3 linked regions of the Homo sapiens genome follow. The protein of the gene in region 3 purifies or fractionates together with the protein of the main gene of each other region. This does not show direct contact. Each region holds a gene or a part of one and is shown on either strand. Other genes may lie near its edges. The genes, in order: PRPS2, XPOT and EML1.

Region 1 (3,651 bases), on a different chromosome or scaffold from region 3:
CCAATGGGACAAAATTAGAAAATTGAAATTTAACAGCTAAAAATACAGTTTAAATCAAGTTTAAAATAAAAGGAGCTGTCTGTATAAATAGCTAGTGGGAGGATACAGCTTCACAGCAGTGTATGTGACCTAAGGTTTTGGCTGCCCAAGGTCAAGTTTAGATCATAAACACACACACACATACACACACACACACACACACACACACACACACGTGCGCACGCAATCTATCAATGGTCTAATACAGGGGTTGGCAAACTGTAGCCTATAGGCCAAATCCAGCTAGCCACCAGCCACCAGCCACTTGTTTTGGTACTGCTTGTGAGCTAATAATGGCTTTCACATGTTTAAATGGTTGAAAAAAATTCAAAATAGTATTTCAAGGCATGTGAAAATAATATGAAATTCACATTTCAGTGTCCATAAATAAAGTTTTATTGGAACACAGCCATACCCATTCATTTACATATTGTCTATTGCTCTTTTTGAAGTACAACCAGAGTTGAATAGTTGCAACACAGACCATATAGCCATTTACAGATAAAGTATGTGGACCCTTCTAATTAGATTTTAGGTGAGAAATTAACTGACTGGCCATCTTCAAGACAGGGAATGGAAACCATGTCTTGAGGAGACTGGGATTAAAATTCAGGGGGACTTTGGTATATGAATTCAAATTTATAAAGGGTTTTTTTCAAATATGAGGGGATCTTGTGTGCTGCTTCAGAAATCTGTGTTGTTTCAGAAATGAATTATGGAGATAAAAAGCAGCATATTGGGGAAAACCTTTCTTGCACTGAGTTACCAAATCACAGAACAGCAGTGTGTCTTGAAAACTGGCAGGATTCTCGCTGAGCCTGGCTGAACATCTATCTATCCATAAGATACGGAACACACAACAGCTGGGAGTTGACCACTGTAGTAGGTCAAACAATATCCCCCCAAAACTCATGTCCACCCACAACTTCAGCATGTGACCTCATTTTGGAAATAGGGTCTTTGCAAATATAACCAAGGTAAAGATTAAGTTGAGTTCATTCTGGATTAGGTTAGGCCTGAAATCCAATGACAGTGTCCTTATAAGAAACAGAGAAGAGACACAGGGAAGAGGCCAGGTGAAGAGAGAGGCAGGGACCAGAGTGATGTAGCCACAGCCAAGGAATGCAAGGAGACACCAGAAGTTGGAAGAAGCGAGGAAGCAGCCTCCCTTACAGCCTTCAGAGGGAGCGTGCCCCTGCCCATTCCTTGATTTCACACTTCTGGGCCTCCGAAACTGTGAGGGAAAAATTTCTGCTCTTTTAAGCCACGCGGTTTATGTAATTTCTTATGACAGCTTAGAAAACTAATACAATCTCCTTCAAAGTTCTTCTCAACCTCCGATTTCTCTGTTGCTCTGAAAGGCAAAGACCAACCACATTTTCTTCAATTTTTTTCTAAAGACTCACAGAGCCTCCTCTGATGCTAATGTTGTGAAAAACATAATTCAATGATACTATTTCTGTTCTTTTTAAAAGGTTAAAAAGAGATCATGGGTTTTTTTTTTAATTAAACTTTTTATTTCGGGGGAATTGTAGATAGACATGCAGTTGTATGAAACAACGCAGAGATCCTGTGAACCTTTTACCTAGTTCCCTGTGGTAACGTCTTGTGAAACTATAACACAGTATCACAGCCAGGACCCTGAAATTGATACAATCCAGTGATCTGATTCAGATGTGCTCTAGTTTGACTTGTACTCTTGTGCATGTATGTGTGTGTATTTAGTTCTATCCACCACCACAAAGACATACAATAATTTCATTATAACAAGGACAATAATGGTATTTTAATACCTGCAAAAATATGCATTACCTGTTTCTTTGAATATTAATGTCAGGGTAGGTTCAAAGCCAAATCTTCAACAAACAAAATAAGAAAGCATATTTACTTGATCATCAAAGGAAAAAGCCAACATTTTCCAGATAATTCTAATCAAGGGGATAAATGAGGAAAAACAACATTGACAGTGGCCCACAGCAGGTTTCTAGGGCACACACCTCTCCTACCTTGTCCTTTTTATCTTGTCGGGCGTATGGGAAACACGGGATCACGGCAGTTACTCTGGATGATGACGCAATCTTGCAGGCATTGATCATGATGAGGAGTTCCATCAGGTTGTCGTTAATTTCCCCGCAGCCGCTCTGGATGATGTAGACATCTTCCCCTCTCACGCTTTCACCAATCTCCACGCTAGGAAAAGAAAACTGCCATCGGTTAATATCGAAGCATATTTGCATCTTGGGCGTCCCTGAGACCACCCCTAGGTTTGATGATCACCAGGATGACTTATAGGACTCAGCCTAATAGTTGCACTCATGGCTGTAATTTATTGCAGAGAAAGGACACAGAGCAAACTCAGCAAAGGGAAAAAGGTGCATGGGGTGAAGTTGGGGGAAACAGGGTGCAAGCTTCCAAGACTCCTCCCTGAGGGGAGTCAGAGGTAGAGCTTAATGCCCCAGTAGTGAGCTGTGACAACACGTGTGAAGGGCTCTCTACCAGGGAAGCTGCTTAGAGACTCAAGTCCCAGGGTTTGTATTGTGGGCTGGTCATATAAGCACCCTCTGCCTAGCACGTACCAAAATGTCAGACTCACAGGCATTCAGCATGAACCACATTGTTTATCAATTGTTTAAGAGTTTATGCAGTGAGCCATCCTTACTGGGAAATGGTGGGTACCCTTGCAAAATGTAAGCTCCCAGAGGCCAGCCAAGGGCCAACCTTGCGAACAGGCCTAAGTCTCAGGCCTGCTAATGTTAACTCTTTTCTGCAAAATACTACATTTAGTTTTAGTTTTTTATTAAAGTTATACAGTCATATTGCTTAAAAAATTCAAACCATTCTGTAAGACGTATAACAGAGAAAGTGCCCAGAGGCCACCAATTTCAACTCTTGATAGGGTTTTTGGATACTTTCCTTCAAGTCTAGCTACTATGTGTGTATTGCTGTGTCTTGATTTTTCATTTTAGGCAAAGTGTATTGACTTCTCACTATGGAAGATGAGGACTGAACTCCATTTCCATTCAGTTCCATCACTTGCAATGTAAACTTCCCATCTCGCCATCATCCCAATATAGATCAATATTCACATTAAAGATTGACTGTACGTTTTTAACTGCGCAAATGCTGCTCAGAGCTCTGCCATGCAATTAACTTAAACGAATGCTTGTATTTTCTTTTTATGCACATCTTTTCTTTTTATTTTCCCTGGAGGTCATTCTCTTACCTTTTTATCTGCTAAGTTTTCTGAATCCTGAATCCAGATTCCACCCTAAACCCTTCACTAACAATCAAAATCTCCCAAGATCAGAGGCCTCAAGTCCCATCTGCATTTCATCGTCTTGCAGGCATCCCTCCCAGGGGTGGCAGGCCTGGGTTATCTCTCTGCCTGTGCACAGCTGCCATCCGGGGATTCCCTGCCCCCTCTCCTGCACTCCATTTGCCATTTTCTGTATCCTCTTTCTTGGTATACTTCCTTGTTTTGCTGGTTGGCATCCTTGCGTAGCTTCTGGAGAAAGAGTAAATAGCAGCTAAGTTTTTGAAAATTGCATGTCTGGAAGTTTCTGTATTTCCAGGTACAGAATTCTGGATGTCCAACATGAGAGGGAGAGCCAG
Region 2 (3,651 bases), on a different chromosome or scaffold from region 3:
AGAACATATGCTCAAAGATTGTGAAGCAAAAGATCTCCAGGAGTTCATTCCTCTTATCAACCAGATTACGGCCAAATTCAAGGTACCGCAAACTTTCAGAGCTCTGAAAATCTCTTGAAGATCAGATGTATTTATCTTCAGACATGTTTCGGATTTTGCCCTTGGGTTTCTTTTTTTTTGCTTTTAATGAATTACTTAAGAGCCTCATGGATCATATGTATTTTTATCATCTGTGGTGTCTGGCACACTGCCTGATACATAGGTCATGCTTAATAGATGTTTGAATATAAACAGACCCTAACCGCTTTGTGTAGCAAAAGAAAACTAGTCTGCTGTTTTAGAAGAGCATATAAAACCAGTAAACTGAGTACTAAATAAGCACCATAATTCAGGTACCCAAGCAAGAGTTAAAAGTAATTCAATGTATTAAAGTCAGTTTTCTGTAGGACATTTAAGCTGGCTAATAAAAGTGGTTAATACTTACATAGTACCTCTTTTTTCCTTTTTTCTTTTTTTTTTAAATGGAGATAGTCTCACTCTGTCACATAGGCTGGAGTGCAGTGGCGCGGTCACAACTCACTGCAACCTCCACCTCCCAGGTTCAAGCGATTCTTGTGCCTCAGCCTCCTGAGTAGCTGGAACTATAGGTGCATGCACCACACCACGCTAATATTTTGTACTTTTAGTAGAGACAGCGTTTCCCCATGTTGACCAGGCTAATCTCGAACTCCTGACCTCAAGTGATCCTCCTGCCTCGGCCTCCATAAGTGCTAGGATTACAGGCATAAACCTGGCCACTTACATAGTACTTTCTATGTTCAAAATCTGTTCTAAGCATTTTTTGTACATTTACTCATTTGATCTTCATACCTACCCTAGAAGACAGGGATTATATGTTATAGTTGAGGAAACTGAGGCATGGAGAAGTGAAGGGATTTGCCCAAGAGTTCATAAAACTCAGGAGTTCATTTGTAAGCAAGTATTGAGAACATGCTATTAAACAATGTTTTTTACCTTTGTTCAAAAACAAGAAAAACCCTAAGAGTTTAATCATATAATTCATTTTTTGAGAATTTAATTTTGAAAATATTCCATGGCAATATTGTGAAATATGTCTGACTATTATTTTAACCTAAATCTTAAGCTGTAGGAAAGGGTTTAAATTTAATGATCTTGAGTCTTTTAGTAATATTTTTTAAGGTTTTTTCCCCACCTTGAAATGGAGTCTTGCTGTGTTGCCCAGGCTGGAGTGCAGTGGTATGATCTTGACTCACTGCAACCTCCACCTCTCAGGTTCAAGCAGTTCCCCTGCGTCAGCCTCCTGAGTAGCTTGGACTGGGACTACAGGCGTGCGCCACTACACCCAGCTAATTTTTGTATTTTTAGTAGAGATGGGGTTTCACCATGTTGGGCAGACTGGCCTTGAACTCCTGACCTCAGGTGACTCACCCGCCTTAGCCTCCCAAAGTGCTGGGATTACAGGTGTGAGCCACTGCGTCTGGCCTAGTAATGTTTAGGTTATATAGATTTTATCTTAAAATTGATATTTGCTAACTGAATTATGTACGCATGCATCCTAAATAGAAAAGAAAGGCTTTATGTAAAATAGTTTTTTCTAAGTTGTATGTTAATATTGTTACTAATTTCTGAAGTAATGATTGTTTATCTTCAGATACAGGTATCCCCGTTTTTACAACAGATGTTCATGCCCCTGCTTCATGCAATTTTTGAAGTGCTGCTCCGGCCAGCAGAAGAAAATGACCAGTCTGCTGCTTTAGAGAAGCAGATGTTGCGGAGGAGTTACTTTGCTTTCCTGCAAACAGTCACAGGCAGTGGGATGAGCGAAGTTATAGCAAATCAAGGTGGGAACACATGCCATATCTAATTTGTCTGCTTAAGTCTGTGTCACTGTTGTACATCTATATGACCAAGAGCAAACTGAAGTAAATACAGAAATTTTGAAGTTTGCTATCCCATGGGAAGACAGTTTATTGTTTTCAGGGTGGGAATTGATCACTTTTATGTAAAGCACCTAAAATTAATTTGTATTCTGTTCCTTTTTCTTTCTGCAATATTTTTTTAATTTGGTTCTTTAGCAATATAAATAACATGGTTACTTACCAGAATTGACCTGACAATTGAGTCTTTATGGCAAATTTGCCATTTTGAAATATAAAATAAATGGAGCTGTACAGATTTGTGTAGAGAATTCTGTATAGGAAATTTAGGGAACAAGATACCAGGGGCAAACTGATTTTTCATTGTTTTATTTTTTAATTTGATTTGATTTGTGAGATAGGGTCTCACTCTCTTGCCCAGGCTGTAGTGCAGTGGTGTCATCACGACTCATTGCAACCTCCACCTCCTGGGCTATCCTCCCATCTCTACCTCCTGAGTAGCCAGGACCATTGGCAGTTGCCACAATGCTGGGCTTATTTTTTGTAGAGATGGGATCTCACCACGTTGCCCAGGCTGGTTAAACTCCTGGGCTCAAGCAATCTTCCTCGGCCTTACAAAGGGCTGGAATTACAGACAGGAGCCACCGCGCCCAGCTGATTTTTCAGTGTTTAATGTTTAAACTTTAGGTGCCCAGTTAATAAAAATCAAGGGATTTTGGCAATTCTGTAAATGCTTTTTTCCCCCTTCATTTTTCCCATTCCACCTGTAAATGATTTTTGACTTGTTAATGTATATGAAAAGAGAACTTCAGGTTGCTTTCCTAGTTAATTTTGGAAATTGCTTAAACTAAAGGTTTTTCTCCTCAGGTGCAGAGAATGTAGAAAGAGTGTTGGTTACTGTTATCCAAGGAGCAGTTGAATATCCAGATCCAATTGCACAGAAAACATGTTTTATCATCCTCTCAAAGTTGGTAGAACTCTGGGGTAAGATAATTTTATTTCTTAACCTTCATTTCCCAAACTCTTTCATAAAACTCTTAGACATAATGGAACATAGCCCTAACAGAGAGAGAAACTGGGAGTTGGTTTTCCCTGGTGATGAATTAATTGACTTACTTTTATATATAAGATGAAAATTTGAATTCTCTTGACAGGAGGTAAAGATGGACCAGTGGGATTTGCTGATTTTGTTTATAAGCACATTGTCCCCGCATGTTTCCTAGCACCTTTAAAACAAACCTTTGACCTGGCAGATGCACAAACAGTATTGGTAAGCACCTAGGAATCTTTGTTTACCTTGTGTAGCTCATATATTCCCAATTTCTTCTTTAATGCCAGGTTGATTATATTATGTTTCATTGATTTTTTTTTTAACTTAGTGATTTCAGATCAGGGTTCTTTTTTTAAAGATTTATGATACCTTCTGGAGTTTTTATGAATTCTTATTGAATCCCAATGCTACTGCTGAATTTTACAAATTCTACTCCTTCGACTTTAACACCTGACTTTTTCTAGGACCATGAAAGGGCATATGTCACAAACATTCTTTCAAGCTTGAGTATTAGTTTCCTACTACTACTTTAATTCTAAAACTTGTACCTAGTGGTTTTCCCTAATCATTAAGAGCATGAAATGGCAACTTGATCCTCCTTGTATGATAGTTTCCCCAAATCTAATTTTCACAATACTTAATGTCAATTTCCGCTTTCTCACTTTCCCACAACCTGGTAAAAGCTAGATTTCATAATTGTAA
Region 3 (4,307 bases):
TCCTCCATCCACCAAGTCACAGTCAAACCCGCAGCACCTGTGGCCCTTCAGCCTTCACTCACAATGTATCTTCCCAATTAACAATCCTGCTAGGACAGGAATAAGCTCTTAAACTTCTCCCTCTGCCCACAGCATATAGCACCAGTCCTTACTAACCCATGCACTAACCGTGCCGCACGCAGAGTGACAGAGCCCTGTCCCTCACCTGCCATCTACTGATGTCCAAGCTGGGCTTCTGGAAGGACAGGCCTCTGAGCCCAAGCGAGACCTACGAGTTTTCCTAATTTTAACTTACTCAGTTCTTATTTCACCTACTCTATTCAACCTGCACAAGTTAGTACCTACCATTTCAGATTTTGGCATGGAACTGAATTATGACTGATGCAACAGGAAGTGTAAACGTTCTGCAGTCTCTTTGGGACCAAGCTCATTCTTGGGTTAGATGATCCATTTTATATATTCTAATTTATTGCTTCCCACTCGTTATTTGGCGCATCTTTACTTACTTTACTCCATGGGTATAAAATGCGAACCATTAACAGCATTTATACGTGTATGGCCTGGAAAAGTTACAAACTCATAGATCTATGTGTTTCTCCGACTGCGCTATTTTCTCCTAACTCTTGGTGTCTTTCTGATGTAGAATAAATACTGATTTCCTTAGTCCTGTAGCAAGTTAACAAGCCTGTAACGTGACAGATCTGTATCCCAGGGGCTGATCATAGAGAAACCACAAAGCGATGTTTTAGCTGCGTCGAGTCCTCAACACGGGGGACTTCCAGCCTGGTACCAGGATAGCCTCTCTGGCCCAGTGTGAGCGAAGGTTCGAGCTGACTTGCCAGTCCCGTGCTAAGTCTCACTGAGGCAGGGCCTTGCTGCCGCGGAAAAACGTGTGGACAGAGGAACGCGCCGGTCGGATGTGGGCCACAGTGAGCCGCGGCGTGGAAACGGCCGAAATGTGCGGGCGCGTTGTCCATGTTTGGTCGTGGAGCTGCCCGCGGGCGCGGGAACAGCGCGTCGGGGGCGGGTGGGCTTGGGTGTCCGTGGCGGAGGTTACCCCGGGCCCCACGCGCCCGCTCTCTCCCGGCCTTGGTCTTTGTCCCCGCGCCCCCGCAAGGGCCGCCCGCCGCGCCCCGCAGCCCCTGAGCCCCCGTGCGCGGAGGCGGGGCCTGGCCAAGGGGACAGCGGGCGGCAGACGCGCCCCTGCGGCTCCCAGGCCGCCCGGGCCGCGCTCCCCGCGGGGAAAGAGGCCGCAGGCGCGGGGAGGCTCGGCCCCGCCCCGCCACGTCCCCCTCCCGGCCCGGGCCCCGCGGCCGCCGAGGCCGCCCCCTCGCGGGCGGAGCGGGCGCTGGGCTCGCGCGGCTGCGGCGGCGGCGGCGGGCCCGGGGTTGCCATGGTAACCGGCAGCAGCAGCCGCCACAGCAGGGCCGGCCCCAGCGCCAGCGCCGGTCGCGGTCGGGCTCAGCTCAGTGTGTGGTGAGCGGCGGCGGCGCGGCCGGGCCGGGGAGCGGGCGCGGCCCGGCGGCCTCAGCATGGAGGACGGCTTCTCCAGCTACAGCAGCCTGTACGACACGTCCTCGCTGCTCCAGTTCTGCAACGGTGAGGGGCGGCCGCGCGGGGCCGGGGCGGCGAGCGGCTGGTGGCGGGCGGCGGCGACGGCGACGGCGGGGACCAAGCCGAGGGGCCGAGGCCCGGCGGCCGCGGGCGAGGCCGCGCAAAGTTGTTGCGGAGGGGCGCGCGGTCCCCGTTCCCGCCGCCGGCGCATTGTGTTGGAGCCGCGGGGCCGCGCCTCGCTCCGGGCCGCCCCGGGCTCCCCGCCGCCACCCCGGCTCCCGGCACTGGCGCGCGGACCCCGCCGGCTCCAGCACCCGCGGAGCGCGCCCGGGCGGAGGCGCGTGGGGCACAGGGCGGCGGGGAGGCCCGGGCAGCCTCCGCGTTCCGGGGAACGTGTTGCTTTTTTGCTTCCCGACCCACATCTGTTTGGAAATGACTGGATGAAGAACTCGGGAAACAAATCCTTTAATAACAAAACCCTCCTGCGAGGATGCACGCAGTGTTTGGACCCCCAGAACCCATTCAGGTCTACTTTAATGAAATCATCACAATTTAATACAATCTAGAGCTTTTTAAATGGAAAGCCAAAGTGGACCTGGCCTCAGTGTTGCTTCTTATTTTGTTTATGGGATAATGGATTCTTTTTTCTTTTTTTGTTTTTGCAATTTTACAGGAAGGAAACATTCATATCCACCAATATGGCATCTTTTTAAAAATATGAAATCCTACATGCTTGAAAGATTTCAGTCTCATTGGCAGGGTTGAAAAAGATTTTCATAGCACACTGAATATTTTATCAGAACATGATGTGTGATAATTCACGCACAAAAGTTAACCACACTTTTTTTTTTTTTTACATGTTGGATTTATTGCTCCATCAAAGGGCCCCAAAAGTTTGTTAATGGGAAAAAAAAATGTGTATTTGATAGAATTTGCTTAAGTGCAGTCGGAATAATTTTGAATTCTAGACCCTTTGACAACTGGAGCAATTTATTTTGCTATTGTATTGTGATTTAGGGAAAGTTTTCTTGTTATTCGACACCTGTTTGTCACTGTAGCAGTAAAGAGTAATGAGTGTGTTGATTCATCCTCTGTAGTGGTATTTTTTATCTCTGGTGAAATTTATCATCTTGTTCATGGTAGAATGTATACTCTGATAGCTTTTGCAGCTTATACTTTACATCTGAACCATTTGTGGGCCTTCATGAATTTAGTAATTCCCTCTTCAGTGGAATTAAAGAAAGTTTCTGCTTTTTCTCTGAATTTAACGCCAGTTTCCAAGAGCAGAACACCTGTGTTTTTGAGCCTCAGAAGGTGTTGAGGGCAGGTAGAATGTATTTGGTATGCTGGTGGTCCCTGGAATACTTTATAGTATAGAGTCATGGGAACGGTTTTGCTCTCCAGTAGGTTAAATAGATTCCTCAATTAACATTTTGAATAGGTTCCTTAATTGACTTATAATCAATCATATTTGAATTATTGTTTTTGATCTAAAAAGTAGTTATATGCTTATGGTAGAATTCTCCCTATGCTTAGTTGGAAAGATATGTGGCTGAAATTTGTATTAAATGACTTTGAGGCATCAGGTCTTACAAATTTAATCTGTGGGCGTATTATTGACAGCTTGATTTGCGATATGAAAATGAGCCTAGATATTTTTATTGGAGCAGTTGTTTGGGGCCTGGTCATACTGTTCCTAAATAGCAGTTTAGTCATGAAGTTGACCTACACGTCTGTTCATGAATGTTTTCGTTTTCTGCATTTTCCTTTTAATTGCCAGCCTAGAGATATTGGCATGGTATTTTACTGGTGGTGATGTCCAGAAGAAAGTAAAAACCAACTCTTATATTTTGTAGAAGTATTGGTTTAAAGAAAAACCACCTTAACTAGAATCAAACAATAAGATCACTTTATAACTATTGAATTACTTTTCTCAAAAAGTTCTCAGCTCTGTATTTGTTATTTTTTTTTTAGGTTGTCTAATGAATAAAGTTTAAAGCAAGAGTGGCCTATGGGGCAGAAGTCAATGTTAACTGGTGATGTCTTAGGCAACAGATGTTTTGATGTGAAACATTTTAAGAGGCTTTCATTAAGTGAAGATATAAATGAATACAAGTCAGTTAATTACTATGATGATTCAATTAAAGCAGTGGATCACAGAAATGCCATTTCACTAGGAACTAAATTAAACATTTGGATATTTCATTAGCTACATTGGCAAACAATTTTTTCTTTTTAAATGAGAGACTTACATTACAATGGCAAGACAGCAGCATAATACATGAACTCATACATTTTCATATGTTCAGTATGCGTCATGCTGTTAATAGTGACAGAAACTAAAAAATCATGGTTACAGCTTTAGAAAATATAATTCACACATATTATTTGGATGACTGTCATAGTTAATTTCCTTCTGGTCAAATAAAGACAAGATCAAGATATGCGAAGTTGAGGCGGGAGGATTACTTGCAGCCAAGAGTTTGAGAGCAGCCTGGGCAACATAGCAAGACCCCCCTCTACAAAAAATTTTTAAAAGTTGGCTGGGCATGGTGGCTTGAACCTGTAATCCTAGCTACTCAGGAGGCTGAGATGGGAGGATTGATTGAGCCCAGAAGTTTGAAGCTGCAGTGAGCTATGACTGTGCCACTGTACTACAGCCTGGGTGACAAAGTGAGACCCTGTCTCAGAGAGAGAGAGAGAGAGAGAGAGAGAGAGAGAGAGAGAGAGAGAAGATAATGTGTAAATGAGAA

What was found.
Region 1: the proteins of EML1 (region 3) and PRPS2 purify together in Homo sapiens (affinity purification with mass spectrometry; one large-scale study listed by BioGRID and IntAct). This does not show direct contact.
Region 2: the proteins of EML1 (region 3) and XPOT fractionate together in Homo sapiens (co-fractionation; one large-scale study listed by BioGRID). This does not show direct contact.

The regions. Positions count from the first base shown.
Region 1 is NC_000023.11:12,797,785-12,801,435, reverse strand, and holds part of PRPS2 (ribose-phosphate pyrophosphokinase 2), read right to left. Parts: intron 2,230-3,651; coding exon 2,046-2,229; coding exon of another isoform or gene 2,037-2,045; intron 1-2,036. UniProt on the Homo sapiens protein: Catalyzes the synthesis of phosphoribosylpyrophosphate (PRPP) that is essential for nucleotide synthesis.
Region 2 is NC_000012.12:64,431,742-64,435,392, forward strand, and holds part of XPOT (exportin-T), read left to right. Parts: coding exon 1-82; intron 83-1,672; coding exon 1,673-1,862; intron 1,863-2,765; coding exon 2,766-2,882; intron 2,883-3,052; coding exon 3,053-3,168; intron 3,169-3,651. UniProt on the Homo sapiens protein: Mediates the nuclear export of aminoacylated tRNAs. In the nucleus binds to tRNA and to the GTPase Ran in its active GTP-bound form. Docking of this trimeric complex to the nuclear pore complex (NPC) is mediated through binding to nucleoporins.
Region 3 is NC_000014.9:99,791,945-99,796,251, forward strand, and holds the start of EML1 (echinoderm microtubule-associated protein-like 1), read left to right. Parts: upstream 1-1,468; 5' UTR 1,469-1,532; coding exon 1,533-1,599; intron 1,600-4,307. UniProt on the Homo sapiens protein: Modulates the assembly and organization of the microtubule cytoskeleton, and probably plays a role in regulating the orientation of the mitotic spindle and the orientation of the plane of cell division.